7 linked regions of the Homo sapiens genome follow. The protein of the gene in region 1 interacts with the protein of each later gene in a pairwise test. Each region holds a gene or a part of one and is shown in the gene's direction. Other genes may lie near its edges.

Region 1 (4,126 bases):
GTGCCTATGCCCACAAAAGGAGAGAGCCCCCTGACTATACAAAGGACAAAGGCATTTCTATCCCAGGTCTTGTCCTTTATCTGATTGAAGGTTTTTCTGTCTGTGCAGCCGTGGGCATGTCTTTAGGCACAATGCCCTGTGCTAGTTCCCTCATCGGTGCCTGCAGCTTGACTTTTTTTCCCCAACTGCTTTTTATGTTATATGGGGATGAGGCACTGACCTGTGGACCTGGGGCTCTCTGGGGACCCTTCCCTTGCTATCTACCTAAGGCAAACTAACTCCTTTCATTAACACGTCAGTATATAAATTTGGAGGAGCACAAAAACATCCAGACCATAGCATAATCCCTCTATCCATTTCTTTCTAAAATATTTATTGACTACCTTCTCGTGCCAGGATACTTAATCTTCACAGCACCCCATGAGTTAGGTATTGCTGTGTCTATTTTAAAGATGAGGTATCTAAGAATCAGAAAAAATAATTTTACTTCAGTTTCATATCTACAAAATGAGGATAATCGTTTCTGCCTCCTATGACTGTTAAATGGTTAAGTAGCTGATATACTAGAACAGTGCCTCAGTAGTAAGCACTCAGATGTTTGCAGGTGTGTTTTCACTATTTTTATTTCTCACCACCATGTTGGATTGTGAACACCTTGAAGATGGGAGCCATGCACTTTTCATCTTTAATCCCAAGTACCTAAGAATGCCCTTCATATATTAGGCATGCGGTAAATATTTGTTGAGTAAATGACTCATTTTTTCCTTGAAAAAACCCAAGGGCTGCAGTTTGTGTCACCACCATTGATATGTTGTGTATCTGAACTAGATCTGCCATTGAGTGTCCCCATCCTGCGCACTCTCCCCCACCCACTGGTGGGGTGGGCACCAATCTGCAGTGTGATTTGGAGCAGGAGCTACTGAACTACTTTCTAACAGGAATAATTAACTTTCTAGCAAACCTCTGGCATCCTCCCATGCTGACCCATCCTGAGGTCTGTGCCTGCATTTGTCTGAGGTGGCACTCATTGCCACTCTCATGCCTGTTAGCTCTAACCTGAAGTTGACTTCTCTGAGATTAGCTGTCTTCAGTTTGACACTCTAATGTCTTGGTCTTACTCTTGTACAGAACTTACTTTTTATTCCTCTAGATCAGGCCTCAGTTTGTGGTTGTTCAGTAATAGTAGTAATAGCCAACATTTATTGGGTATTATACTGTGCAGTCTAAGAGCTTTATAAATGCTAGCCTTTTATCCATCATGGTTTCCTTCTCTTATGTCAGAAATGTTTTTAAACCTAGAAAAGGTAAAGTAAATGAGACGTCATTCCTCATTGATCAGTGTAAGCTCATTCCATCCAATCTCGTGATATTTTTCTCTCAAGCACAATCAGAATTTAGATTTATTATTTTGAAAACTAGCTGTAGAAAACTAATGCAGAGTTCCTATTCCTTCATCTACTATTAAATAGGGACTCTGCTTTCAAGTATAAGCCTAGCGTGTTTTTCTGACAAAGTAAGCCTCCTGGTTTCTAAAGGAACTAAAAATCTTTTCTAAATGATATGAAACCCATGACGTGAAGCACATTAATATAATAATTTTCTTTTTTAAAATACTGTTTTTGGTACATTTGATAGGCCTACTTTGATTATTATCAACAAATTCATATCTTCCCCAAAGTGTTTTTTCCACATTGTATTTTATAACATTGTTCATGTTTTTAACCTGATAACTTTCATTTTCCTGCTAATATCCTTCAGGTACTTTTAAAAATTACAGGAATCATTGGCCTTCCCATTTTACCAGTGTGGGCTTTTTCATCAGTAAAAATAAAAGGGAAAACATGGCTTCTTTAAACTTAAATGTTTTTACTTATAGAAAAACATTCTACACAAAAATCTCCCTGTTTTCTATTCAGAAAAATAATGTTCTGCCAGACTAAATTGAGGGGTTTTGTGACCTTTTTTGTTCATTACTCTGTTTTAAAATGATATATCTGATGCATTTATTAATAGAAAAAGATCTGTAGCTCGAAGTGATCCTCTCTAGGCAGGATATAGTGAGTAAGGGACCCCATCACTTCTTCCATTGTACATATCTGTGTTGAATTTTTTATAGTGAACATTTTTTACTTTTGTGATCAGAAGAAAAATTTCTAAATGTTATATTTGTATAACCATAGTCATGTTATTTCTTTGAATAACCTATCAGTGATTTATATTTCTGTGAGGTTTATATGTGTGTATTCTTAAAACATTATTTTCCTTTGCCTCCTTCAAATTTATACAGGTCCCAAAGGCAAGCAGTTAGAAGGAACTGAATGTCCACTCCATGTTGTTCATCCACCCACTGGGGAAGAGTTTGCTCTGGGATGTGGAGTGTGCAGAAATGCCCACACTTTTTAGAACACGCAGATCCTTTGTCTACAGAGAGAAAAATTGCCTTCATCCCCCAAGAGGATGCGGTGAAGTTTAAACTCTGCTCAGGATAAGGACGGGACCATTTTTACATCCATGAAAATGAACCATTCACAGTGCAAGAAGGATACCAAATACCATGTACATAATTCTTGCTATGAAAAGTTTCCCCATTATTTTGGTTTATCTTCTTTTGAACAAATGACATCAAACTTGTGAGGTGTTTGCATGTGGCCATTACCGTCATTGGCCTGTGAAGCATTGGACATTTATAGATAATTGATATAAAAGAATCGCCATGCCCATGGACTAAGAACGATGCTGGCTTTCAAGCAAAAAAGAAAAATAATCATTGTTTATTGTATACTGCCTTTTTGTAATCCTGTACAATTGCATCACGGGTGGGGATAAAAAGAGGAATATTCTGGTTTATTTCCTAGACTGTTATTTAAAAAAAAAAAAAACATTGTGTTAGGACAGCATATAAATGTAATAAGTATCACACTGTATATAAACATATCAATGTTTGTCCTGTATAAGAATTACTAAATTACAAATGCAATTTCATTTAAACTTCTAGGTTAAGTTTGAGCCTGAAATTTTAATGAAGTGCAATACTGAGTGTGCCTCATTATCTTGCAGCTGTAAACATATTGGAATGTACATGTCAATAAAACCACTGTACATTTTTATACAGTGATAAAGTCTACCACTGTGGGAGGTATTGTTTAAAAAACAAAATTTGAACACCTTTAAGGTCTAAAAGTCCAGTTTTCCTCAGAAAGAAATTTACTAACACAACACATTCATAATTTTCAAAACTGTTAGAGAAAATAAGAATAGTAATGAAGTGCAATGTTGGAATCTTAAACCCTAAGCAGAAGATCATAAATATATATATATATATTCGTAGGTAAATATATTCATACCAAAGACAGAAGAAAGCATTTAGGAAATTAACTTCTATTTTAACTAGCAGCATTTTTAACTTTATTTATTTATTTATGAGACAGGGTCTTACACTGTCACCCAGGCTGGAGTACAGCGGCGTGATCTCAGCTCACTGCAGCCTCCAACTGGGCTCAAGCGATCCTCCAGCCTCAGCCCCCTGAGTAGTTGGGACTACAGGCATGCACCAGCACCATGCCCAGCTAATTTTGTAATTTTTGTAGAGATGGGGTTTTGCCATGTTGCCGAGGCTGGTCTCAAACTCCTAGACTCAAGCAATCCCCACTGCTTTGGCCTCCCAAAGTGCTAGGATTACAGGCGTGAGCCATTGCACCCAGCCCCTTTTTGAAGTTCATATAAAGTAATAAAATCACTAATTTTTTATTCATTTTCTATAGACAACGGTGTGTTTAGGTACATCTTTTTGACACTCGAGTCATGAAATTGCCAAATTATTGATTGTTGACTCATCATACATCAGATTAGCAAAACTTTTGTTGTTGTTGTTGTATTTGAGACAGTCTCACTCTGCTGCCCACACTGGAGTGCAGTGGCACCATCTTGGCTCACTGCAACCTCCACCTCCCAGGTTCAAGCGATTCTCCTGCCTCAGCCTCCCAAGGAGCTGGGACTACAGGCGTGTGCCACCTCACCCAGCTAATTTTTGTATTTTTAGTAGGGATGGGGTTTCACCAGGCTGGTCTTGAACTCCTGACCTCAGGTGATCCGCTCGCCTCCGGCCTCCCAAAATTCCGGTATTACA
Region 2 (4,157 bases), on another chromosome or scaffold:
AAAGTGCTGGGATTATAGGCGTGAGCCACCAGCCACCATTCCTGGGCTTTTTTTTTTTTTTTTTTTTTTTTTGAGACAGGATCTCCTTCTGTTGCCCACACTGGATCTCAGTGGCATGATCATGGCTCACTGCAGCCTCCACCTACTGGGCTCAATCGATCCTCCCACTTCAGCCTCCTGGGTAGCTGGAACTACAGGTACACACCACCACGCCCAGTTACTTTTTGTATTTTTTATAGAGATGGGGTCTCACTGTGTGGCCCAGGCTGGTCTTGAACTCCTGGGCTCAAGTGATCCGACCTCCTCAGCCTCCTAAAGTGCTAGGATTACAAAGTGTGAGCTACTGTGGCCTGGCCTATTTTTAATTTTTTGAGGAACTCCATACTTCCTCCCCAGCAGCTGCACCATTTTATATTCCCACCAGCAGTTCACAAGGGTTCCGATTTCTCCACATCCTCATCAACACTTGCTATATTCTGTTGTTGTTAGAGTGATGGGCATGAGGGTATCTAATTGTACTTTAGGTTAGCATTTCTCGCAGCTTTTGATTTTAAATCTAGGCATTTTCCTGGCCAAGTCATATGGCTTTCTGTTTGCCTTAAAGGTCTTGTTAGCAGCTAGGGCTGTGTGTGGTCCTAGTTGTGCACCGAGTGGGTGGCCTTGGTGTGGGGCTCTGGCCTTGTGGCTCACCTCCACATCAGCTTGGTCATAATCCCACCTCCAACACCCAACACCACTCCGCAGAAGTGTGATGTGTTGATGTTCACCTTCTCTGGTTTCCCAGTGCCTTCTGACCCAGTTTGAAGGAGTTGGCAGACTCTCTGTTCCATCAGTTTCCTACAAATTGCCTTTTGACATTTCCCAGAGTTGGGTAGGGGCAGTTTCTCATTACCGGATGCCCAGCCCTCCTGAAGAGGCAGATTTGCTTGTAGGAGGAGGCCATTAATCTTCACCACGAGAACCTGAAAAATAATAAAAATAACAACAACAAAAAGAAGATCATGTGGGCCCTTGCAGGGAGGGGTGGCTGGGAGGGGTGGGGAGAGACAGTTTTATTTGCTGGCCAGCAGTGCAAGCCTTCCCCGGCTGTCTCTGTGCCCGGCAGGCAATGAACATCGTGACCTCGGTGCTCCTGCTCTATGGCAGTGAGGAGGAGGCCTTCTGGCTCCTGGTGGCCCTGTGCGAGCGCATGCTGCCCGACTACTACAACACCAGGGTGGTGGGTGAGTGTCCCCGGGTGCTGCCTCGCCTGGGTCTCCAGGTGCCTGCTGGTTCCATGAGGGTGGCAGCCCTTCCCAGGCCAAGCTCCAGGCTTCACGTGGGTTCCCTAGGAGTTAGAGGGTAGTATTACACATTCGGTGGTTTATAAAAGTCCCCTCAGAGCCTAAATTCCTATCCATCTAACTTCCTGTCAACTTTTTGATTATGGAAAATTTCAAACATCAAAACTAGAGAGTATATATCCCCCATGTAACCTGATGCTCAACTTTACTGAACTCATATCCAGTGAAATCTGTTATGAAGTGGAAATGGACTTGCAAGAGTGTTTAATTAGGTTCATATTTAAGCATGTTATCCTGTCCTTCCCCTGCTGTCTGGTGTTTGGAGTTACCGCTCTTGGGGTCCTTCAGAGCTGCGTCTATTCACAATCATCAGGATGGGACAGAGTCATTGAGGGTGCTGTTTACCTCTCATGCCTTACGGAGAAATCAGTATTTCCCCAAAATAAAATTCAAGTGTAGTAGAAGAAATAGTTATTTCGCCCAGTGGTTTGGGAGCTGTAGAGAGACTTGAAGGGTTTTTTCGTCCTTGTTTTCTCCCAGCACTCCAAGTCTCCCTCAGCCCTCACTGCACAGCTGGCAGGGCTGGAGTGGCCAGGGCTCGTACGCTGCAGGTGAGGGCCCACCCAGGCCACAGGGTGGGCTCACCATCAGCCTCGCTCATCCTGCCCGCAGGAGCCCTGGTGGACCAAGGCATCTTCGAAGAGCTCACGAGAGACTTCCTGCCGCAGCTCTCGGAGAAGATGCAGGACCTGGGGGTGATCTCCAGCATCTCGCTGTCCTGGTTCCTGACCCTCTTCCTCAGCGTCATGCCCTTCGAGAGCGCCGTGGTCATCGTCGACTGCTTTTTCTATGAGGGCATCAAGGTGATCCTGCAGGTGGCCCTGGCCGTCCTGGACGCCAACATGGAGCAGCTGCTGGGCTGCAGCGACGAGGGCGAGGCCATGACCATGCTGGGCAGGTGACATGCCGGGTTCCTTCTCCTGCTGGGGGCTCACAGCAGAACCCCTCACCAGCCCCGGGCACTGTCCAGTCAGCCTGAAGTGACTGTGCCCACCAAGTGCCAGGCTGCAGCTGGACCCGGGGGTGCTCTGGGGTCAGGAGGCGGCTCCTTTCTAGTGGGAGATGAAGCAGCGCTCAGTGATAGGTGCCAGGAGGAGTAAAGCAGGCACTGCGGGCAGAGCATGCTGGCTGGAGGGCCACCGCTCAGATGTAGGGTTGGAGATGCTTCCCCTGAGGGCAAACCAGAGCCAAGATCCAGTGACCACAATTCCAGTTGGTGGCACAGCTGGGCATTTCATGTCCACCAGGTGGTCCCGGTCATACCTCTCCAAGCTCAGCTGCATTGCAGCCCCCATGCCCTGGAGGGAGCAGGCCTGCCCTGGGCCCGCTGGAACAGCTGGATGAGCTGATGTCCCACTAGTCACGCCAAATGTCCAGGGTCATCCCAGCCCCTCCACCCCCTCCTTAGTCCCCACATCCCATCTCTTGCAGATTCTGTCTGGGATCCAGCCCCTTCCCTTCAGCCTGCTGCCTCAGCCCAGGCCCACCATGCCCTTTCCCTGGGGTTCCCCTCTCAGTCTTTGACCTGCCTGCATCCCATGACTCTGATCAGACCTGGCCCTGCCCCTTCCCTGGGTCCTCTGTACAAAGGCACTGTCTGAGCCTCCAGCCTGGCCTTCAAGCCCCGGCCCCTCCTGGCTACACTCTGCCCTGCCCTGAGCTCTGTGCAGTCCCACCCTCCTACATAGCGTATTTGTCCGGACTGGAATGCCCCCAGCCCCCAGGAACAGCCTGGGACTCTGCCACTTGCCCATGGCCAGGCCAGGTGCTGCCTGGGACTCTCTAGATCCAGCAGGGTTGTCACCTCCCTACTGTGGGCCTAAGTAGCTTTTGGTCCACACTGATGTTAAGATACTCAGCCTGTGGCCGGAGTCTGTGGCTGGTTTTCCTGCCGCTTCCTACAATAGGCGGATAGGGCCTCCTCCAGAGCAGGGGTCTGACTGGGGATATGACCAGGGCTATGGGCATGGGGAGTCAGCTACCTCCTCCCACCTGAGTGTCAGGCTCAGCCCAGGGACCCAGAGAGGCCATGAACTCTGGCGGGGCTAGGTCAGCTGACAGAGGTAGGGCTCCATCCCCAGGACTGTGTCCCTAGAGAAGCTGATTCCCTGGGCTGCAGCAGGCCTCCCCACACCTGACTTTCTCCTGCGACTCAACCTTTGATCCCTGAATCTTCTTGGCCAGGGCGAGAAGGTCCCACATCCCCAGGGCCCCGCCAAAGGGAGGAAGCTCGTCATCCTTCCAACTGGGTAGGATCTGGGGTTATAAGGCGTTCCTGCCCAAGGGACCCCCCCACTGACTAAGAAAACAGCCCAGCGTCCTCAGGGTTAGTGCTCAGGCCTTGTCGGGGGCACTGCCCTGTAGAGGGCTCCCCAACTTGCTGGGGGCGCTGCCAGGGCACACCTCTGCCCTCCTGCAGGGTGCCCAGTCCTCTGCACACTCCTTATTAGGAGTCTGCATAAAGATTGGGTCCCTCCGCATCACCCAGCTGTGGGAAGGAGGCTCCCTCTGCCTGGGCGTGGTCTGGACTGTTGTCCTCTGTCCTTTGCAGATACCTGGATAATGTGGTCAACAAGCAGAGTGTCTCTCCTCCTATCCCGCACCTCCGTGCCTTGCTGAGCAGCAGCGATGACCCCCCTGCAGAGGTGGACATCTTTGAGCTCCTGAAAGTGTCCTATGAGGTCAGCACCCAGTGGGGCCATTTTGGCCAGGCCGCTCCATCTGGCATGTGGGTTGGGGTGGCTATGGGCAGGTGGTGGCCCTCTGCCCTGCAGTTGGCTTGATCTCACCAAGTCACCTCTCCCTATAGAAATT
Region 3 (2,928 bases), on another chromosome or scaffold:
TCTAGGATTGAACACTGCACTGAGAAACAACAACATCTAGATGATGGATAGGGGAGGAAGAAAGAATTCAGTAAGGAGAATGAAGTTTCTCCTGAAATGAAGGAAGAAAACCAGGATAGTGCCATGCAAAGGAGGTGTTTCAAAGAGGAGGAAGAGATTAACAGTGCCAAATGCGACTGAGATGTCAAAGAAGTTGAAAGAAATAAGGATATCCTGGGTAGCCTTGGTTAGAGTAGTTCTGGTGGAATGGTAGACATGGAAGTCACATTCTATGGGTTGAGAAGAAAAGGGAGATTAGAAAGGGTAAGGAGTGGATGTTTGAGTGCAGGAAAGACCTAGAAAAGCTACAGAGCATTTTCTAAAAAAGGGGAGCATTTTTTAGAATAAAAGAGATTTGAGCACTCCTTTCATTTACTCATTCATTTGCTCAAGAAATCTTTACAGGCCAGGCGCGGTGGCTCACGCCTGTAATCCCAGCACTTTGGGAGGCTGAGGCAGGCGGATCACGAGTTCAAGAGATCGAGACCATCTTGGCTAACACGGTGAAACCCCGTCTCTACTAAAAATACAAAAAATTAGCCGGGCGTGGTGGCGGGCGCCTGTAGTCCCAGCCACTCGGGAGGCTGAGGCAGGAGAATGGCGTGAACCCGGGAGGCGGAGCTTGCAGTGAGCCGAGACTGCGCCACTTCAGTCTGGCCTGGGTGAAAGAGCGAGACTCCGTCTCAAAAAAAAAAAAAAAAAGAGAGAGAGAGAAATCTTTACAGATGGTCTACATAAATGCAGGCACTGTTCTAGAGGCTAAATATGAAACATATTTAAATGCTAATGGAAGGGTCTAGTAAAAAAGGAAAGGTGGAAGAAGGATGTAAGAAAAAAAGAGGAAAGTAAAAGGAGAATCTTGTGAAGGTCAGAAGAGATCTTGAGCATAGGTAGAGGAATTAGCCTTAACGTCAAGAAAAAGGACAATCTCTTATCTGAGCAACAGAAAGAAGACAAAGGCTATGGGTGCAAATATAAGTAAACGTATAACTAATGAAGCTATTATCTCCATTTTACATATGAAGCCAGTACTCAAAAAAAAAAAATCAAAGTCCATAATCTTTCCCATTCTCTGGGCTAGATAAAGATTATTAGCAGGAAAATTACCTAGTGCCCACACAGAGTAGTATAATAGTTTGTTAGGGTGGGCCATGTTGGTAAGGAGTGATCTTATATTTGCTAGAGGATGCTGTCTTCTTCCACAGGTATGGCGACAATTTCTTTCACAAGCTACTCAATTAAAAACTGGAATAACCTAGCACTACACTTCTATTTATTTCCATTATTTTTCAGCTCACCTTCTAGATTAGTATACTGGGCACTTCTTGGCTGGACCTCCCGTTAACCTGCTCTTCCTCTATCAGTGGTTCTCAACCCTGCAGCCAAATTACCTGCAGAGTTTTCTAAACGTCTACATGCCATTAGTCCACCCCTAGGGATTCTGATTCTAGAGTCCAGAGGTGAGGCCTAAAAATACATATTTGTAAAAGTTCATGAGTGATGTTGCTGTCCTACCAAAGTTGAGGATCACCATTATACTGCCTTATTAGATGGTTTCTCTAATCCCCCAACTCTAATATTGTTTGTGCTACTACTCTGGCTACTTTCTAAAAGTGTCATTTTGCTTCTTGTTTTTTTATAGAGGACATAGATGAAAATCTCTTGTTTTGAACGAAGATTTTAAAGAACTCAACTTTCCAGCATCCTCCTCTGTTCTAACCACTTCAGAAATATATGCAGCTGTGATACTTGTAGATTTATATTTAGCAAAATGTTAGCATGTATGACAAGACAATGAGAGTAATTGCTTGACAACAACCTATGCACCAGGTATTTAACATTAACTTTGGAAACAAAAATGTACAATTAAGTAAAGTCAACATATGCAAAATACTGTACATTGTGAACAGAAGTTTAATTCATAGTAATTTCACTCTCTGCATTGACTTATGAGATAATTAATGATTAAACTATTAATGATAAAAATAATGCATTTGTATTGTTCATAATATCATGTGCACTTCAAGAAAATGGAATGCTACTCTTTTGTGGTTTACGTGTATTATTTTCAATATCTTAATACCCTAATAAAGAGTCCATAAAAATCCAAATGCTTATGCAAGTGTATTTCCAGTTATTATTTAGACAATCAAATGTAAAAGATCAACCCAAGACTCACACTTCATGTCAAATTATAATTGTGCTTCCTAAACCCTACTACCTTAAGTGTGTGTGTGTGTGTGTGGTTGAGAAAAAAGTGTGAGACATCTCTTACAGGAAACAAATACTCAGTGGCAAGATAAGAGGTGCTCATTAATGTCCTTCATCATTATGTAAGTTTAAACAGAAAAAAACTAATATCAAGTGCTTTTTTACCAAATTTGATATAAAATGTAGAACAAGCTGGGTGCAGAGGCTCACACCTGTAATCTCAACACTTTGGGAAGCCAAGTCGGGAGGATTCCTTGAGCTCAAGATTTCAAGACCAGCCTAGGCAACATGGAGAGACCCTGTCTCTATGAAAACTTAAAAAAATAGCCAGGGGTGGTGGCATGTACCTGTGATCCCAGCTACTTGGTGGACTTAGGTAGGAGAATTACTCGAGCCCAGCAGGTCGAGGCTGCAGTGAGCTATTGTGCCACTGCACTCCAGCCTGGGTGACAGGGCAAGGCCCTGTCTCAAAAAATAAATAAATGAAAATAAAATGTGAAAGATTATGCACTGCTTGATCCAATTAATTCTAACTTTTTGTGCAGTTGAGCATGTGTGCTGGGGAAGAGGGCGGCCCTGCAAAAATTTCACATAATCATTGCCTCACAATAAAGAAAATGTAATGGTAAAACAGGTAGAGGGCCATAAAGCGTCTTGATGTCCAATGTAGAAAGAGAT
Region 4 (4,157 bases), on another chromosome or scaffold:
TTTCAGAGTAGTAATTCTTGTTTGTATTAGTAGAGGTGGGAGTGAAAGTTTCACACAGGGGAAACAATAGACACTAAGTACTTTGGAGGCTTCCAGCAGCAAACCTCGGGTTCCAGAACACGGGTGAAGGCCAGTCTTTCATGATTACTGCGTGCGCGGCTTTTTCCTAGGGGTTTCTGAAACAATCTAGAAAAAGGAGAGATATCACCTGAACAATCAAATGGACACAGGAGGTCTTAAAAGGGTGGAGGAGTGAGTACCTTGCTTAGAAATTTCACTCATAAACTGACCGCAGAGGAAAGGCCCACTGGGCAAAGAGCATCTTACTCCCTAGGTAAATCTGCCTTAATGTGCACACATATGTTGGAGAAGTGGGATGAAAGTCCTTGCTTGTGCCCCTCTCTCAGTACCCCAGTACACTTGACGAGAGAGAGCAAGAGAAGAGGGAAGTCGTTCCCTTGATGGTCTGTATCTTGCTCAGGTCCCTGCATAGACAGATTGGCTCCTCTATAATTCCGTGATTTATTTTGGGAATGATAGAGGTCTGTGGCCTCTTGTATTCTCCAGGAAATCCTGGACTGCAAGTTTGTAGATGGAGGGTGTGGGGGTGGGCGAAAAGTGGAGGTGGCCTTCCCTTCTGCCCCCACCCCCACCCCAAGGGACCTCCGCGCCACCCCTCGGCTCTCTCTCTCTCTCTCCCTACCCCGCAGGATCTACACCGGCTGTGACATGGACCGCCTGACCCCCTCGCCCAACGACTCGCCGCGCTCGCAGATCGTGCCCGGGGCCCGCTACGCCATGGCCGGCTCTTTCCTGCAGGACCAGTTCGTGAGCAACTACGCCAAGGCCCGCTTCCACCCGGGCGCGGGCGCGGGCCCCGGGCCGGGTACGGACCGCAGCGTGCCGCACACCAACGGGCTGCTGTCGCCGCAGCAGGCCGAGGACCCGGGCGCGCCCTCGCCGCAACGCTGGTTTGTGACGCCGGCCAACAACCGGCTGGACTTCGCGGCCTCGGCCTATGACACGGCCACGGACTTCGCGGGCAACGCGGCCACGCTGCTCTCTTACGCGGCGGCGGGCGTGAAGGCGCTGCCGCTGCAGGCTGCAGGCTGCACTGGCCGCCCGCTCGGCTACTACGCCGACCCGTCGGGCTGGGGCGCCCGCAGTCCCCCGCAGTACTGCGGCACCAAGTCGGGCTCGGTGCTGCCCTGCTGGCCCAACAGCGCCGCGGCCGCCGCGCGCATGGCCGGCGCCAATCCCTACCTGGGCGAGGAGGCCGAGGGCCTGGCCGCCGAGCGCTCGCCGCTGCCGCCCGGCGCCGCCGAGGACGCCAAGCCCAAGGACCTGTCCGATTCCAGCTGGATCGAGACGCCCTCCTCGATCAAGTCCATCGACTCCAGCGACTCGGGGATTTACGAGCAGGCCAAGCGGAGGCGGATCTCGCCGGCCGACACGCCCGTGTCCGAGAGTTCGTCCCCGCTCAAGAGCGAGGTGCTGGCCCAGCGGGACTGCGAGAAGAACTGCGCCAAGGACATTAGCGGCTACTATGGCTTCTACTCGCACAGCTAGGCCGCCCCTGCCCGCCCGGCCCCGCCGCGGCCCGGACCCCCAGCCAGCCCCTCACAGCTCTTCCCCAGCTCCGCCTCCCCACACTCCTCCTTGCGCACCCACTCATTTTATTTGACCCTCGATGGCCGTCTGCAGCGAATAAGTGCAGGTCTCCGAGCGTGATTTTAACCTTTTTTGCACAGCAGTCTCTGCAATTAGCTCACCGACCTTCAACTTTGCTGTAAACCTTTTGGTTTTCCTACTTACTCTTCTTCTGTGGAGTTATCCTCCTACAATTCCCCTCCCCCTCGTCTTTCTCTTACCTCCTACTTCTCTTTCTTGTAATGAAACTCTTCACCTTTAGGAGACCTGGGCAGTCCTGTCAGGCAGCAGCGATTCCGACCCGCCAAGTCTCGGCCTCCACATTAACCATAGGATGTTGACTCTAGAACCTGGACCCACCCAGCGCGTCCTTTCTTATCCCCGAGTGGATGGATGGATGGATGGATGGTAGGGATGTTAATAATTTTAGTGGAACAAAGCCTGTGAAATGATTGTACATAGTGTTAATTTATTGTAACGAATGGCTAGTTTTTATTCTCGTCAAGGCACAAAACCAGTTCATGCTTAACCTTTTTTTCCTTTCCTTTCTTTGCTTTTCTTTCTCTCCTCTCATACTTTCTCTTCTCTCTCTTTTAATTTTCTTGTGAGATAATATTCTAAGAGGCTCTAGAAACATGAAATACTCAGTAGTGATGGGTTTCCCACTTCTCCTCAATCCGTTGCATGAAATAATTACTATGTGCCCTAATGCACACAAATAGCTAAGGAGAATCCACCCAAACACCTTTAAAGGATAGGTGTCTGTTCATAGGCAAGTCGATTAAGTGGCATGATGCCTGCAAAGCAAAGTCAACTGGAGTTGTATGTTCCCCCCACCTTCTAAATAGAATAGCTCGACATCAGCAATATTATTTTGCCTTATTTGTTTTTCCCCAAAGTGCCAAATCCATTACTGGTCTGTGCAGGTGCCAAATATGCTGACAAACTGTTTCTGAATATCTTTCAGTACCCCTTCACCTTTATATGCTGTAAATCTTTGTAATGAATACTCTATTAATGATATAGATGACTGAATTGTTGGTAACTATAGTGTAGTCTAGTGAAGATGAATTGTGTGAGTTGTATATTTTACTGCATTTTAGTTTTGAAAATGACTTCCCCACCACCTAGAAACAGCTGAAATTTGACTTCCTTGGGAGAACACTAGCATTAATGCAAGTAAGACTGATTTTCCCCTAAGTCTTGTTATATTTGATAAGGAGCATTAATCCCCCTGGAAATAGATTAGTAGGATTTCTAATGTTGTGTAGCAAACCTATACTTTTTTGTATTTAAAAATTAATGTGAAATATGCATCATACACAATATTCAATCTAGATTCCAGTCCATGGGGGGATTTTTCCTAATAGGAATTCAGGGTCTAAACGTGTGTATATTTTGGCTCTTCTGTAAATCTAATGTTGTGATTTTTATATTTGTTTCGTTTTGTCTGTGAACTGAATAATTTATACAAGAACACACTCCATTGAGAAACGTTTTGTTTTTTGCTCGTTTGTATCGTCTGTGTATAACAAGTAAAATAAACCTGGTAAAAACGCTAACTATGGTGTTTGAAAGCAGTTTACAGTTTGAAAATAATTTAATTATTATAGGTGATGATATTTAAGGGTTAAGGAAGACTAGCCCGTCCCCACTCCAATATGGGCAGCCTGTTTAATGGAAGCCACCTCCCATTCCCCCCTTAAATTTGTTTTATAGTACTTCCAGGAGCTACTTTTTTCTTCTTATTTATAATTATTTAGCTACCTATGAGCCAAGTCTCACTTTTCTGCGCTCATTTTCTTTTTTCAGGAAAACATATGCACTTTTCTCATCATATTTATCTGATTCTCTCTGAAGTTGGAAATAATGCGAACAGGAAAAGGAGGTTCTTTAAATAAGGAGTTAAGAATTTCTTTAAATTTCACAGAGTAAGGCGGGAGGCGTTGGCCAAAAGTAGGGTGTAATTTAAATGCATGTCAAAATAGGATGTTGACCGCAGATTTAGTAAATTCTGGTTGTACATACGAGGCCTTGGAGGTGAGTGGCGAATCTGTAAACGCAGACACAGAACAGCCTACATTTCTTGAGTGGATGGTTTCCGAAGACTGGGCAGGGGTAGGGTGGCGAAAGACACGTAGAACAAACTCGCGAAAGGGTCGTTTTTTAACCACTGAGCTTAAAACTGCTTCTGGGAGGCATCTGGGCTGGGGGTAGGGGCACTGCTCTATCCCTTCTGTAGTGGAATCTTATGCCAGTCCTATCCCTGCCAGATTCACACCTGGGGAACAAATGCAGAAATGCGAAATCCCAACCTGGAGGGCGCTGCGTCTAGTGAAGTCCGCAGAACTCTTTACCTCGTGGAGAAGCGATTTTTGTACTTTTGTCTCCAAAGAGAGGTGATCCAGGCAAGAGGCGGAAAATGGTTCCACATTCTTGCTTAGTCTGGGCCAGCCTCAGGTTACAGGACTAAATTTACCTTTACATAGACATTGTCCTGTGTCCTT
Region 5 (4,046 bases), on another chromosome or scaffold:
GGAATGAAAACCAGTATTCACACAAAAACCTATGCACAAACCTTGTGAATATATTAAAAACCAGTGAATTATGCACTTTAAAAAGGTGAATTATGTGGTATATGAATTATATCTCCAAAACATTTAATTAAAAACCTGTACACAATTATTCGTAGAAACTTTCTTTAAAATTGCTAAAAACGAGGAAGATCTCAGTTATCCTTCAACTGGCAAATGAATAAACAAACTGGTACAGCCGTGCAATTGAATACTGCTCAGCAATAAAAAAGAATGCACTGCCAGTTCAGCAACATGGGTAATTCTCAAATGCATTATGCCAGTTGACAGAGGTCAGACTCAAAATACTATGTACAGTGTGATTCTACTTATATGACACTGAAAAAAGCAGAACTATAAGGACAGAAAACAGGTTAGCGGTTGCCAAGGAGTGGGAGAAGCAGCCAGGGAGAACTTTGAGGAGATGAAAATGTGCCAGGCCTTGGTCGGTGGTGGTACGTAACTGTGCATTTGTCAAGACTCAGTGCTATATGCTGAAAAGGGCAGGTTTTACTATAAGTAAGTTGTACCTCAATAAACATGATTTTTAAATGATTAAAACTTTGGTTTTTGTTTGTTGTGGTTCAGTTTTAAGGTTTCCCATAAATCTATTGGTTTTAGATTCTAAGTTGTATATAAGCTTCTGTTTTAAAAGAATTTTTTTTAAAATCCTCTTATCGTCAACAATATTTAGTTGTGCTGGAAATTTTATTTTGGAATTGTTTAATAGAGAAAGACAATAAATAATGTTCAAGAACAGACATTGATTCATAACATCAAAGTATATTGTGAGAAGATGGTATTTCAGAATAGAGGAAGAATTTCTTATGTGCTGGTAAGATTGTTTGTAGATAATCATTTCTGCATAATTTTCATAGCTGGATTGCTTTAATAAAGCCATTTAAAGGTTAAGTTCTAGATTGCTTCATGTTGCTTATCAATGTTTTAAAGCTAAAATAGAAAATTAGCTGTTAAGTTGGCTCAACCGGAAATTCAGTATATCCTTTAAAAAGAGAAATTTAGTAAGCAGTGTGTCTAAAGAATGACATATGGTTGGGTACAGTGGCTCGTGACTGCAATCCCAACACTGTGAGGCTGAAGTGGGAGGATCACTTGAGCCCAGGAATTTGAGACCAGCCTGGAAAACAGTGAGACCTGCATCTCTACAAAAAAACAAAAAATTACCCAGGCATGGTGGTACACACCTTGTGGTCCCAGTTGCTTGGGAGGCTGAGGTGGGAGAATCACTTGAGCCTGGGAGATCAAGGCTGCATTGAAGTCTCATCACGCCACTGCACTCGAGCCTGGGTGACAGAGCAAGACCCTATCTCAAAAAAAAAAAAAAAAAAAAAAAAAAAAGAACCCCCCCCCCCACCAAAAAAGGCATGTGATCAGTAAAAAAGACATTATTTGCTTATATTGTAGAGTGGTTCTAAAATATAGATTTTACATTGAGAAATTTTAATACTCTCTTTTTTCTTTTTTTTTTCTTTGTTTTACTTTCTAAAGATGAGGAAGAAAATCCTTCCCGTTCTTCTGGATGAGCATCCTATCTTCGTAGTTGGTTTGGACTTCGATAGGTTGATGGAAGGAATACTTCTATTAACCAAATAGAATCTGTTTACAAAAATGGTTCGTGTGTGTTACCATTATTCTTTTGTCAAAAAGTGTGTATATGTGTTTGCATTTACATATATTTGTACATCTGTATGACAGATGTATTTTAAAAGTTTCAACTTGAAGTAAAAGTACAACAGCTTGAAGTGTTGATACCAGGCCACAGCCCTCTAACTCATGTGATCTCCCATGCATGCTGCCAGAATAAAACCACCAGGAATGAATTCACTCCCCACTTCTCTGGAACCTCAGGACCCGCCCATTTCTCGGCAGTACTGTGAATTTTGAAGTTAAACTAAATTTTGGTACCATACCAACTGGAATTTAGGCTTTAAAAATAATGTTTCAAGGCCAGGTGTGGTGATTCATGCCTGAAATCCCACTACTTTGGGAGGCTGAGGCTGGAGAATCGCTTGAGGCTAGTGAGCTGTGATTGTACCACTGCACTCCAGCTCGGGGAACAGAGCGAGACCTTGTCTCTAAAAATAATAATAGTAATAAAAATAACGTTTTATGACTATTTATTGCAAGGTCAGATTTACAGATTGTTATAAATTGTTGAGAAATTTTTGTGATTAGAATATGAAGGAAAAAGCTTTGTTGGTAAAAGTGACATGTTAAGGGGCTATGAAGTAAATATGCTGCAGTTAATTGTGCTAAGTTAAAATACAGTTTAGTTATTTGCTTTAAAATAAACTCTTCTTTTTTTCTTTAAAGTATACTACCTCAAAACTCATTATGTTGTCAGAGCCCTAGAGCTGGCTAGTGTAACACTGACTATGAGTAGGTGGGCCCACCACTTGAGTTGAGGTGATTTCATGGTGTCTTTCCAGGCTCTTGATAGGGTGTCACTGCATGCAAGCCATGAATCTGTTTTGAGAATCCTCTCCATTTTCCCAAATAAAAACCTATCCCAACAGTGACTATATCACTCAGCATTGGATCTAAATATAAAAGTGGTGCTTTCAGTGTTTTTGGCAGATAGTGTTCCATAACCTTTCCATCAGAAGGGATTTTAGACACCTTAGAGGTCCGTGCTACATCTTCACAGTTCCTCCGAATAACCTTAGGTGGTAGTGTTACTTGCCTTTGACACCTGTGCATATGTTTTAATGACTAGATCCAAACTGTGTTGTTCTTAAATCAAAAATTGGATAATTTTTAATATTTATGTATTAATCACACAGTGTGCTCTCTGAAGTTCTCTTAAGCCTTCAGTTTATACTCTTAATTTTCTTTCTGAGCTGGGGAACTGACTTTGCACTTTGGTTACACAGAACATTGGTTTCCAATTTAGTTTAACTGAAATTTGCTGCTGATATGTTGAGTTTGTTCTTTAAAAAATATCTCATATATCTCGTCTTTCCTCCTTAGAAGAACAGACCTAACTAGCGAATGTATGAATGAAAATGCATCTATTTCAGAGCCGACATGAAGAGTTTAGTTTTTTTACTTTATAAACTGTGAATATGAGTATGCCAGCTGCATTAGATGTAACTAATCATATTTAAATATATTTCACTTTGACTTTAGACCTTTTGAAGTCTGTATAAACTTGTTTTGAAATACAGTCTCCACTTACGAATGTCATAACAAAATACTTTTTTGCATGATAAAAAATTACTTTGATTACAAAAGGCATATTCTTTCATGGTTTCTGCAATGAGAGGAAGTGTAATGATTATTTTAATATTTCTATTAAAACTGTATATTTTTATGGCTGCTCTTTTATGTTACCCACTGTCTCTTTGGGGTTGTTAATTGGTTTCTGAAAGGGAACTTCAAACTCCTTTACTACTGGCCTTCCATGGTTGGTCCCTATTAGGTTGTTGTGAGAACGTCGACCAACTCTTTGATACCCGCCAGGTAGACCGTAGTACCTGCCATGTCTGACACCCTGCATCCAGCTAAAACCAGAAACAGCGCTGGGCCTCCCTGTGGACAAGACATTGATTTGACCAGAAGCAGATGTCTGGCTAAGGCTGCCAACCAAAGGGTGGCCTTAGATGAAGGGCTTTGTTCAGTTAGGGGCAGAGGTCATTAATTTTTTTTTTTTTTTTTGAGACAGAGTCTTGCTCTGTCGCCCAGGCGTGAGTGCAATGGCGCGATCTCGGCTCACTGCAAGCTCTGCCTCCCAGGTTCACGCCATTCTCCTGCCTCAGCCTCCTAAGTAGCTGGGACTACAGGCGCCGGCCACCATGCCCGGCTAATTTTTTGTATTTTTACTAGAGACAGGGTTTCACCGTGTTAGCCTGGATGGTCTCGATCTCCTGGAGGTAATTTATTTCTTTGGATGTTTGGACTAGGAGATGGGGAGAGGCAGAGCAGAAAGAGAAACACAGATGCCACAAGGAGGAGGAACAGAGCTAACCCTGGATAGGACTGGACACAGC
Region 6 (4,157 bases), on another chromosome or scaffold:
ATATAAATCTTTAATAAGGATTGCTTTTCATTAAATAACCTCTGACAGTGTATGTGTGTATATGTGTGTGTATATACATACATATATATATATTTTGAGACAGGGTTTCACTCTATTGCCCAGGCTGGAGTATGGTGGCGCAGTCATGGCTCACTACAGCCTCTACCTCCCTGGGCTCAGGTGATCCTCCTGCCTCAGCATCTTAAGTAGCTGGGACTATAGGCATGTGCCACCAGCCTGGCTAATTGTTGTATTTTTTTTTGTAGAGAAGGGTTTTTGCCATGTTGCCCAGGCTGGTTTCGAACTCCTGGGCTCAAGCAATCCTCCTGCCTTGGTCTCCGAAAGTGCTGGGATGACAGGCGAGAGGTATGGCTGGCACACCTTTGATACTATTTATGTAACTTTGTTTATCTGAACTTCTCTCCCCTCTCCGTCCAGCTTTTTTTTTTTTTTTTTTTTCAATGTTGCCTGCTACTTTTGGCCTTTGGTTGGTAGTTTCTGTTTCCTTTCCCTAGGTAAGGATTTACAATGATTCTAGGTAAGTGTGCAAATAAATGAGTGTATTTTGGATTCCTGGCCCCCTGTCTTAGAAAGGAGAAGCTCTCCATCAGCTTAGGGACAGAGAGCTCTGTACAGGAAATCCAGTTCAAAAAGGTCAAGACCCATTCTTGACCTACCCACTTAATATCTAATTAAGCATCAATATTGGAAATTTTGTATTTTTTATTTTTTGGACAAATGAATTCTATCCTTATCACTCAGCTTCAGAAAACTTAACCCTTAATACCATCCTCTGTCTCTTGAAATGAGCGTGGCTTCCTGTTTCTGAGAATGCCTTCACCCTTAATACCATCCTCTGTCTCTTGAAATGAGCGTGGCTTCCTGTTTCTGAGAATGCCTTCAAGCCCTGTAATTTTAGGCAAAACCTTCAGGCTAACAACTTCAGGTTTGCAAGCATTCATCATTGATATATGATAGGATTTCCTGGCCTTCCTTCTCGTTATGCAATTTGCTAAAGGAGACACCTGGAAGGCAGAAAGCCCTGCTTCTTCTAATCTGCTTCATATCTCATTGGTGCAGCTTCTCCTTGTCTCAGAGGAAAAAGAATGCAGAAATTGGGGGTTAGTGAGGGGTAAATAGACAGGAAACTTGTGAGAAGGAAGTCTGTGTTACCAAGCTCGTTAGCATTTGTCCAGCCCCTGTCTTCTCTCCACAGCTCTGTAAGAATTTGCCATGTGACAGTTCTCAGTAGCTTTTGTTTGTTTTGTTTTGTTAAGACAGAGTCTCTCTGCATCGCCCAAGCTGGATGCCATGGCAGGATCTTGGCTCACTACAACCTCTGCCTCCCAGGTTCAAGCGATTCTCCTGCCTTAGCCTCCAAGTAGCTGGGATTACAGGCACGCACAACTATGCCTGGCTAATTTTTGTATTTTTAAGTGATTACAGGCACACACAATTATGCCTGGCTAATTTTTGTATTTTTAAGTAGAGACGGGGTTTCACCATGTTGGCCAGGCTGGTGTCGAACTCCTAGCCTCAAGTTATCCCCCCACCTCAGCCTCCCAAAGTGCTGGGATTACAGGTGTGAGCCACTGTACCCAGCCTTTTTTTTTTTTTTTTAATTTTCTAAAATCATTCAAGAAGAACAGTTTGTAAACAAATATCTTTCCACTTCTGTTCCCCAAAAAGTATTGGTTGTTAAGAGTAACCATGGGTTGCTAATTGTGAAAGCAGTGATGAGCATACATGAAGATTCATTATACATTATTCTCTCTACCTATGTATATGTTAGTTTTCCATAATGAAAAGTTAAAAAGGGTTTTATGAAGTCTAATCAGAGCTTTGTACACAACTATTATTTGAAGCTCCGTCACTGTGGGAAGCGTCAGATTTATGGTTTCTAATCCGAGTCCAACCTGTTGTTTATTAAAAACAAAAGAAAATCTGGAGGTTCCTAAGGCATGTCTTAGTATGAACACTTTTAACATGCCAACTGTTAAAAAGACAATGGTTGGTTTGGATGCGAGTGTTTAATTTGTGCCAAATTACACAGGATACAGTAAATATTTAGGGAATGGCAAGAATACAATAAATCCTCTAGGCCTTCCTAATTCAGTTGGTTAGGAAAATCTCACTATGACCTTTCTGTAACAAAAGAGACAGGCTCCTGTTCAGTTTTACCTACTGTACAGTCTCCTTTATTCCATGATCCTTAGGCCAAGGAGACACTGTTCTCATTTACTCAAGACGAATTTGTGTCCAAAGCCCACATTTATGCCTATAGTCAAAAATAGCTCTCCACTTTGGGAGGCTGAGGCAGGCAGATCACTTGAGGTCAGGAGTTCGAGACCAGCCTGGCCAACATGGTGAAACATCGTCTCTACTAAAAATGTAAAAATTAGCTGGGTGTGGTGGCGCATGCTTTAATCCCAGCTACTGGAGAGGCTGAGGCAGGAGAATTGTTTGAACCAGGGAGTCAGAGGTTGCAGCGAGCCAAGATTGTGTCACTGCACTTCAGCCTGCCGACAGAGGGAGATTCTGTCTCAAAAAAAAAAAAAAAAGAAAAGAAAAGAAAAAAATTAAAAATTAGCCAGGCAAGCTGGCACTCACCTGTAGTCTGTAGTTTCAGCTACTCAGAAGGCTGAGGAAGGTCACTTGAGTGTGGGAGAAAGAGGCTGCAGTGAGCTATGACCATGCCATCATACTCCAGCTTGAGTGACAGAGGAAGAACCTTTCTTGAGGAAAGAAAAGAAAAGGCATATGGAGCTGTGCTCTGGTCAGAGAGACTGAGGAAAGGCTGGCTGAGCTGAGACTTGAAGGAGGGTGGAGTGAGGCCTGTGTGCAAAGTATCCTCTCTGCCTGATTCACCTCACCCTGAGATGGCAAAAGGCAAGGTGAGTTCTGGGGTAGATAGAAACCCTGAGTGGATGGGGGTGCAATCAGGAGATGGTGTGACAAACCTGGCAGGTAGGCCAGCTGCTAGCCCTGAGAGTTCCCTCATGCTAATTACTAAGGCACTTCTTCCTCTCCTAGCAGTTACAGCCAAAGCCAAATTTTGGCCTTGGCTTGTGGAGTGTGTGACCTGGATTCCAGGCCCCACTTACCCCCTCAGCCAGGCACCAACTCCACACCTATATACAGTGGCCCTGGCTGCAGAGGCAGGCAGGGGCCAGACCCTGCGAAGCCTTGTAGAATGTTTAAAGAATTCTGTTTTTAGTTTAAGAACAATGAAAAGAAAATGGTTGGGTGGGTTCATATTTGCAGTGATCCCTCTGGCTGATTAAGGACCACAGAGAAACATCGCCAATTTAGAGAAGTCCACCGTGAGTATATTGTTCCCCACTTTTTCGGTGAGTCAGCCTTCCTCAGAAACCACACTTCAAAAATAGCTTTTTCGGCTAGAAAATTGGAACTCAGTGCAAAGCTGCCTGTACTCCTCAGGAAATATTTTGCTGCCTCTTTGGTGGTTCTTTTTGGCCTTGCAGCCTGACAGGAGTCACCAAATGTGGCCTTGAGTTGATCCGAGGATTTCTGTTATGGCAAACTTTTATTGCCAACTTTGCAATTGGTGGCCTTGGACAAATTTATTAACTTGTATATTCTTTAGCTTGCTTACGTGTAAAATGAGGTGGGTTAGCAAGATCCTTCCTAGCTCTAAAATTTTGTGAGATTTTTTTTTCCCCTTTCAGTAACTTGTGGTAAAACTATAGACATAGCTACTGAATCACGTTGGGAAGTTTAGGACCTGTATCCACACCCACTAATAGCCACCTTGTTTCAGAGAGAAATGAGAGTGCAGAGGGATTTTCCAGGATGATCCTTGGTTATAGTAGGTTACTTAGAGTGTGGGGGAAATCCTTAAAGCCGGTTAACATGACAGAATGGGTTCTACTGTGAGTTGCTGCCACAACTGGCACCCTTGTTTTCTTGTTTCTCTCCTGGATCCCTTTGGATATGTTTCTTCTCTGGGCCTCAGTTTAGTTATCTGTATAATTGGACTAGACTGATTCATCTTTGAAGACTGCTACAAAATTTCTGTGATGGGATTCTAAACCTTTTTATAACCATAAATGACTGCTCTAGAATGTGTAACTATTATAGGGAAAGATTTATTAATTATTTATTGGAATTGGGTAATACATGTTCATATTTTAAAT
Region 7 (4,626 bases), on another chromosome or scaffold:
AGTCCCTAGGAGAGAGGAAAGATGGGACTTCTCTCTTGGACTGTGAGCTCCCTGAGGGCAGGGACAGCTTCCGGGTCCCCAGCACCCCACGAAGGAACTAGCACTAAAAAGGGCTCATCCCTGCTGATGGGGGATGGGAAATTTTATCCTTGAAGGGGACTCTTCCCCTTGTGACCCATTTCAGGGTTCCCAAGAGGGGAGGGCTGTGGGGCTTCCCCACAGGGCAGCACCGGGAATCTGTGGCAGCAGGAACAAAAAGAGGAAGTTGAAGTCTTGTTGGGCCCTGGAGTTCAGCTCTCCTGTCCTAGACAAGCAGCCCTGCCAACATGGGGGATGAAGGCCCCGGGGGGTAGGCATGGTCTACAGGCTGTCCATGACAGGGCTCAGGTGGATCCTCATCCTGGCACCTGCTACCACTCCACCTCTCCCAGACCACGTCCAAAATCCCAGGCTCCACCCTCCGGAGACACAGACCTGTAGCTCACCCCAATCTAGGGGAGACATTGCTGTTAAGGGAATGCAAAAGGTACAGACAGGGTGGGGAAGTCAGTACCTAAGAGACCAGCCTGGGCCACGTGGCAAAAACCCTGTCTCTACAAAAAAAAAAAAAAAAAAAAAAATTAGCTCGGCGTGGTGGCACGCGCCTGTGGTTCCAGCTACTCCAGAGGCTGAGATGGGAGGATCACTTGAACCCAGGAGGTCGGGGCTGCAGTGAGCCATGTTCGCACTCGTGAACCTGCACTCCAGCCTGGGGCTGTAACAGCAAGAAAAGAAGAAAAAGAAAGAGAAGGAAGGAAGGGAGGGAGGGAAAGAAAGGAAAATAAAGAAAGAAGAAAAGAAAAGAGGCCAGGCGCGGTGGCTCATGCCTGTAATCCCAGCACTTTGGGAGGCCGAGGCAGGCGAATCACGAGGTCAGGAGTTTGAGACCAGCCTGGCCAACATGGTGAAACCCCGTTTCTACTAAAAATACAATAAATTATCTGGGCGTGGTGGCGCGCGCCTGTAATCCCAGCTACTCGGGAGGCTGAGGCAGGAGAATCTCTTGAACCCGGGAGGCGGAGGTTGCAGTGAGCCGAGATCGCGCCACTGCACTCCAGCCCGGGAGACAGTGCGAGGCTCCCTCCCAAAAAAAAAAAAGAAGAAGAAAAGGAAAAAAAAGTGAGAGAGAGAGAGAGAGAGAGACGAGAAAAAGAGAGAGAGAAAGAAAGAGAAAGGTTTCGGGTCTCTGACGGATGAGAAGGAACAAGACGGGGATGCAGTCCTACCCACTTCGACTCCACCCCCTCTCAAGACCTTCACGCCTAACGCCTCCCTACGCGCAACAAAACTGGCCGCCAAGGGAGCCCGTCCATAGCCCTGGGACGTTAGAGAATTAGAGCAGGAGCTCCGCCCTGTTGTGGGCAACTTGCCCTTCTCAAACATGGCCGCCACGGCGCCTCTGGAAGGGAACCGCTCTGGGCCCCGCCTTTGATCTCGTTGGTGGGGCTGGGGGATGAGAGCTGCACCGCGCGGGACAAGTCGCCGGCGGCGCCCGACGGAGCAGGTGATTTCCCCTCCTGCCCCCGGCCCAGGGCTAGGAGAGTCGCGGAGAGCGCTGACCCAGGGTACCCGTCCGATGTGTTCCCCCACGGTACCCCCCCCGGGGCCCGTCGGACCCCCATCTCTGATTCTCGCCGTGGCCTGTATCAAGGCACATCCAGTTTGCTCAGGCCTGCCTCGTCATGTGTCCTCCAAGGCCACAGCCGCATCCCTGTGCCTTCGGGCCCACTATTCTGGACGCTTACGGGTGTCCCGCTAGCGGGTTTAGGGAGCTGCTGCTTCAGGGGTCGTCCATCATCGCGGTCCCACTTCCTGTGCTCGCCCTCCCTGTTTGTGCTCCCGCCTGACTTTGGATGCAGGGATCCCTTGTTCCCCTCAATGCCCTTGGTGCCTCTAAGGTCTGACTTGGGTATCAGAGGACAATGATATCCTCTGGGGCCTGCGTTATGGGTCCAGGGCCTCAGGAACCGGGCTTCACAGGGGCTGGGAGAAGCAGTGAAGACCTTCCATGCTAGACCCCTTGCTGCCTCCCTGAGAAGTTCGCTAGGACTCCTTTCACACTAGCTCCCAGGATTCCTCCTCCCACATGGCCTGCTCTCCCTCCACTTTAAGCACCTCCCCACCCCAAGGGAGCAGCATAGTACTTCTTACCCCACTCTCACTTAAATTTGTCCACAGTGTCTCTATCTAGCATCTGGAGGGTCCAGGCCTGTGCTGCCCTTGGGAAGCTCCCAGGCTAGCTGGGAGCAGTGAAGGTGGGGCAGTTAGGGTTGGCTGCAGAAAGGGAGTCCTGCAGAATGAGATTTGGAGAGGCAGAGGGACAGATGCTCTGGGCTGGGAGAGTGGTGTGAGCAAAGATTCTGAAATAGACAATATAGCCAGCCAGGCAGGAGAGGAGATTCAGAATATAGGATGGGGCCACACAATTTGCATCGTGAGAGGTGATGTAGTGTGGTGGTTAACAGTGAGGGTTCTGGATCCAGACAGCCTGGGTGTAAATCTGCCATTAACTTGCCTTGTGACCTTGGGCAAGTTACTTAACCTCATAGTGCCTTCATTTCCTTTCAGGTAAAATGTGGATAATACGGCCGGGCGCGGTGGTTCATGCCTGTAATCCCAGCACTTTGGGAGACCGAGGCGGGTGGATTGCCTGAGGTCAGGAGTTCGAGACCAGTCTGGCCAACATGGTGAAACCCCGTCTCTACTAAAAAATACAAAATAAATTTGCCAGGCATGGTGGCATGCGACTGTAATCCCAGCTACTCAGGAGGCTGAGGCAGGGGAATTGCTTGAACCAGGGAGGTGGAGGTTGCAGTGAGCTGAGATCGCACCACTGCACTCCAGCCTGGATGGCAGAGCGAGACTCCGTCTCAAAAATACATAAATAAATAAAATAAATAAAATAAAATGGGGAGAATAACAGTATCTACATTTTAGAGTTATTGTAAGGATTAGGTAAGTTAATACATGTAAAAGTGCTTAGGACAATGCCTCGTAAGCAGAGGCAATAAATGCTAATATTACCATCATCGGAGGCATTTAGGCAGGACTCATGACAGGATGACAGTCACATTTGGTAGACACCATCAACCAATGATCTCTAATTTGCGGCCCCCAAGAAGCAATGGGGTTCTGTGGGCTACATCTGGAATTTGAAATGTCTCATGGAAATCATGTTCTTACCCTGGAGAAGGGTGGCTGCTTAGGTGCTACTTAGGAAACCAGTCTGGCAGACCAGATCTTCCCCAACTCAGGGGCTATGCGGGGAGAAGTATTAGGAGCCCCTGAGCAGGAAGGATGTACTTAGGAAGGCTACCGGGGATGGGGAAGGGTAAAAGAGCTTAGAAGCCTGGGTGAAGTTTGGGTAGACCAAAAACAGGAGGAGGGAGGGAGGATGTTCCCTTGGAATACAAACTAGAGAAAAGCTTAGGGGAGCAAGTCTTTTTATTTGGGGACAGTGAAGAGTTTCCTAAAAATTCCCTGGCCCCCAGGCCTTGGCTAAAAACCCAGAAGCATGAGACACATCCCTGAGAAGCTTCTTCCCTAGAAACTGGGCTCTCAGGCCGGGCACGGTGGCTCACGCCTATAATCCCAGCACTTTGGGAGGCCTAGGCGGGCAGATCACCTGAGGTCGGGAGTTCGAGACCAGCCTGACCAACATGGAGAAACCCTGTCTCTACTAAAAATACAAAATTAGCCGAGCATGGTGGCACATGCTTGTAATCCCAGCTACTCAGGAGGGCTGAGGCAGGAGAATCGCTTGAACCCAGGAGGTGGAGGTTGCGGTGAGCCAAGATCGCGCCATTGCACTCTAGCCTGGGCAACAAGAGTGAAACTCTGTCTCAAAAGTAAAATAAATAAATAAATAAATAAATAAATAAAATTAAAAAAAAAAAAAGAAAACCTGGGCTTTCAGCCAAGTTTCAGTCACCACCACACAGGTGGCTCATGCCTGTAATCCCAGCACTTTGGGAGGCCAAGGTGGGCAGATCACCTGAGGTCAGGAGTTCGAGACCAGCCTGGCCAACATGGTGAAACCCCGTCTCTACCAAAAATACAAAAAATTAGCTGGGCGTTGTGGCAGGCGCCTGTAATCCCAGCTACTCAGGAGGCTGAGGCAGGAGAATTGCTTGACCCTGTCAGGTTCACACCATTGCACTCCAGCCTGGGCAACAAGAGCGAAACTCCGTCTCAAAAAAAAAAAAAAAGAAAGAAACTGGGCTTTCATGCAGCAGCCATGGGCCTTTGTCCCGGCAGAGGCTACCATGCAACTGACAGCCCAGGATTCGAGGGTGATGTAACCCAGGGTCGAGGTAGGTCCCTGGAGGCGGTTCTACCCTGAGGGAGCTGCATGATGGGATCTAGTATGCCTGGGCTGAGCCATTCTGCTCTTCCTCAGGGCCCATGAGGGCTCTGGCGCAGGTGGTATGAATTCCCCTGGTAGGCTGGGGCTTCTCAGTCCTGCTTTCCAAAGTGACCCCTGTGCTATGAGCAACTCTGTTACCACTCGGGACCAGGCAACTGTAAGCATAGAAGGTAGCCCTGTCCCAACCCACTTGAAAGTCTTGATATCCTCCCTTCCCCAGA

The links.
Region 2: the proteins of MYCBP2 (region 1) and TBC1D9B interact in a two-hybrid assay, tested with the Homo sapiens proteins (one large-scale study listed by BioGRID and IntAct).
Region 3: the proteins of MYCBP2 (region 1) and SPARCL1 interact in a two-hybrid assay, tested with the Homo sapiens proteins (one large-scale study listed by BioGRID and IntAct).
Region 4: the proteins of MYCBP2 (region 1) and TBR1 interact in a two-hybrid assay, tested with the Homo sapiens proteins (one large-scale study listed by BioGRID and IntAct).
Region 5: the proteins of MYCBP2 (region 1) and RGPD8 interact in a two-hybrid assay, tested with the Homo sapiens proteins (one large-scale study listed by BioGRID and IntAct).
Region 6: the proteins of MYCBP2 (region 1) and ARL6IP5 interact in a two-hybrid assay, tested with the Homo sapiens proteins (one large-scale study listed by BioGRID and IntAct).
Region 7: the proteins of MYCBP2 (region 1) and CUEDC2 interact in a two-hybrid assay, tested with the Homo sapiens proteins (one large-scale study listed by BioGRID and IntAct).

The regions. Positions count from the first base shown.
Region 1 is NC_000013.11:77,043,655-77,047,780, reverse strand, and holds the end of MYCBP2 (E3 ubiquitin-protein ligase MYCBP2), read left to right. Parts: intron 1-2,287; coding exon 2,288-2,403; 3' UTR 2,404-3,124; downstream 3,125-4,126. UniProt on the Homo sapiens protein: Atypical E3 ubiquitin-protein ligase which specifically mediates ubiquitination of threonine and serine residues on target proteins, instead of ubiquitinating lysine residues.
Region 2 is NC_000005.10:179,872,986-179,877,142, reverse strand, and holds part of TBC1D9B (TBC1 domain family member 9B), read left to right. Parts: intron 1-1,105; coding exon 1,106-1,223; intron 1,224-1,955; coding exon 1,956-2,241; intron 2,242-3,894; coding exon 3,895-4,024; intron 4,025-4,152; coding exon 4,153-4,157. UniProt on the Homo sapiens protein: May act as a GTPase-activating protein for Rab family protein(s).
Region 3 is NC_000004.12:87,472,557-87,475,484, reverse strand, and holds the end of SPARCL1 (SPARC-like protein 1 isoform 1 precursor), read left to right. Parts: intron 1-1,681; coding exon 1,682-1,710; 3' UTR 1,711-2,150; downstream 2,151-2,928.
Region 4 is NC_000002.12:161,422,659-161,426,815, forward strand, and holds the end of TBR1 (T-box brain protein 1), read left to right. Parts: intron 1-710; coding exon 711-1,569; 3' UTR 1,570-3,212; downstream 3,213-4,157. UniProt on the Homo sapiens protein: Transcriptional repressor involved in multiple aspects of cortical development, including neuronal migration, laminar and areal identity, and axonal projection.
Region 5 is NC_000002.12:112,367,712-112,371,757, reverse strand, and holds the end of RGPD8 (RANBP2-like and GRIP domain-containing protein 8), read left to right. Parts: intron 1-1,545; coding exon 1,546-1,580; 3' UTR 1,581-3,389; downstream 3,390-4,046.
Region 6 is NC_000003.12:69,091,216-69,095,372, forward strand, and holds part of ARL6IP5 (PRA1 family protein 3), read left to right. Parts: intron 1-4,157. UniProt on the Homo sapiens protein: Regulates intracellular concentrations of taurine and glutamate. Negatively modulates SLC1A1/EAAC1 glutamate transport activity by decreasing its affinity for glutamate in a PKC activity-dependent manner.
Region 7 is NC_000010.11:102,429,443-102,434,068, reverse strand, and holds the start of CUEDC2 (CUE domain-containing protein 2), read left to right. Parts: upstream 1-1,494; 5' UTR 1,495-1,543; intron 1,544-4,626.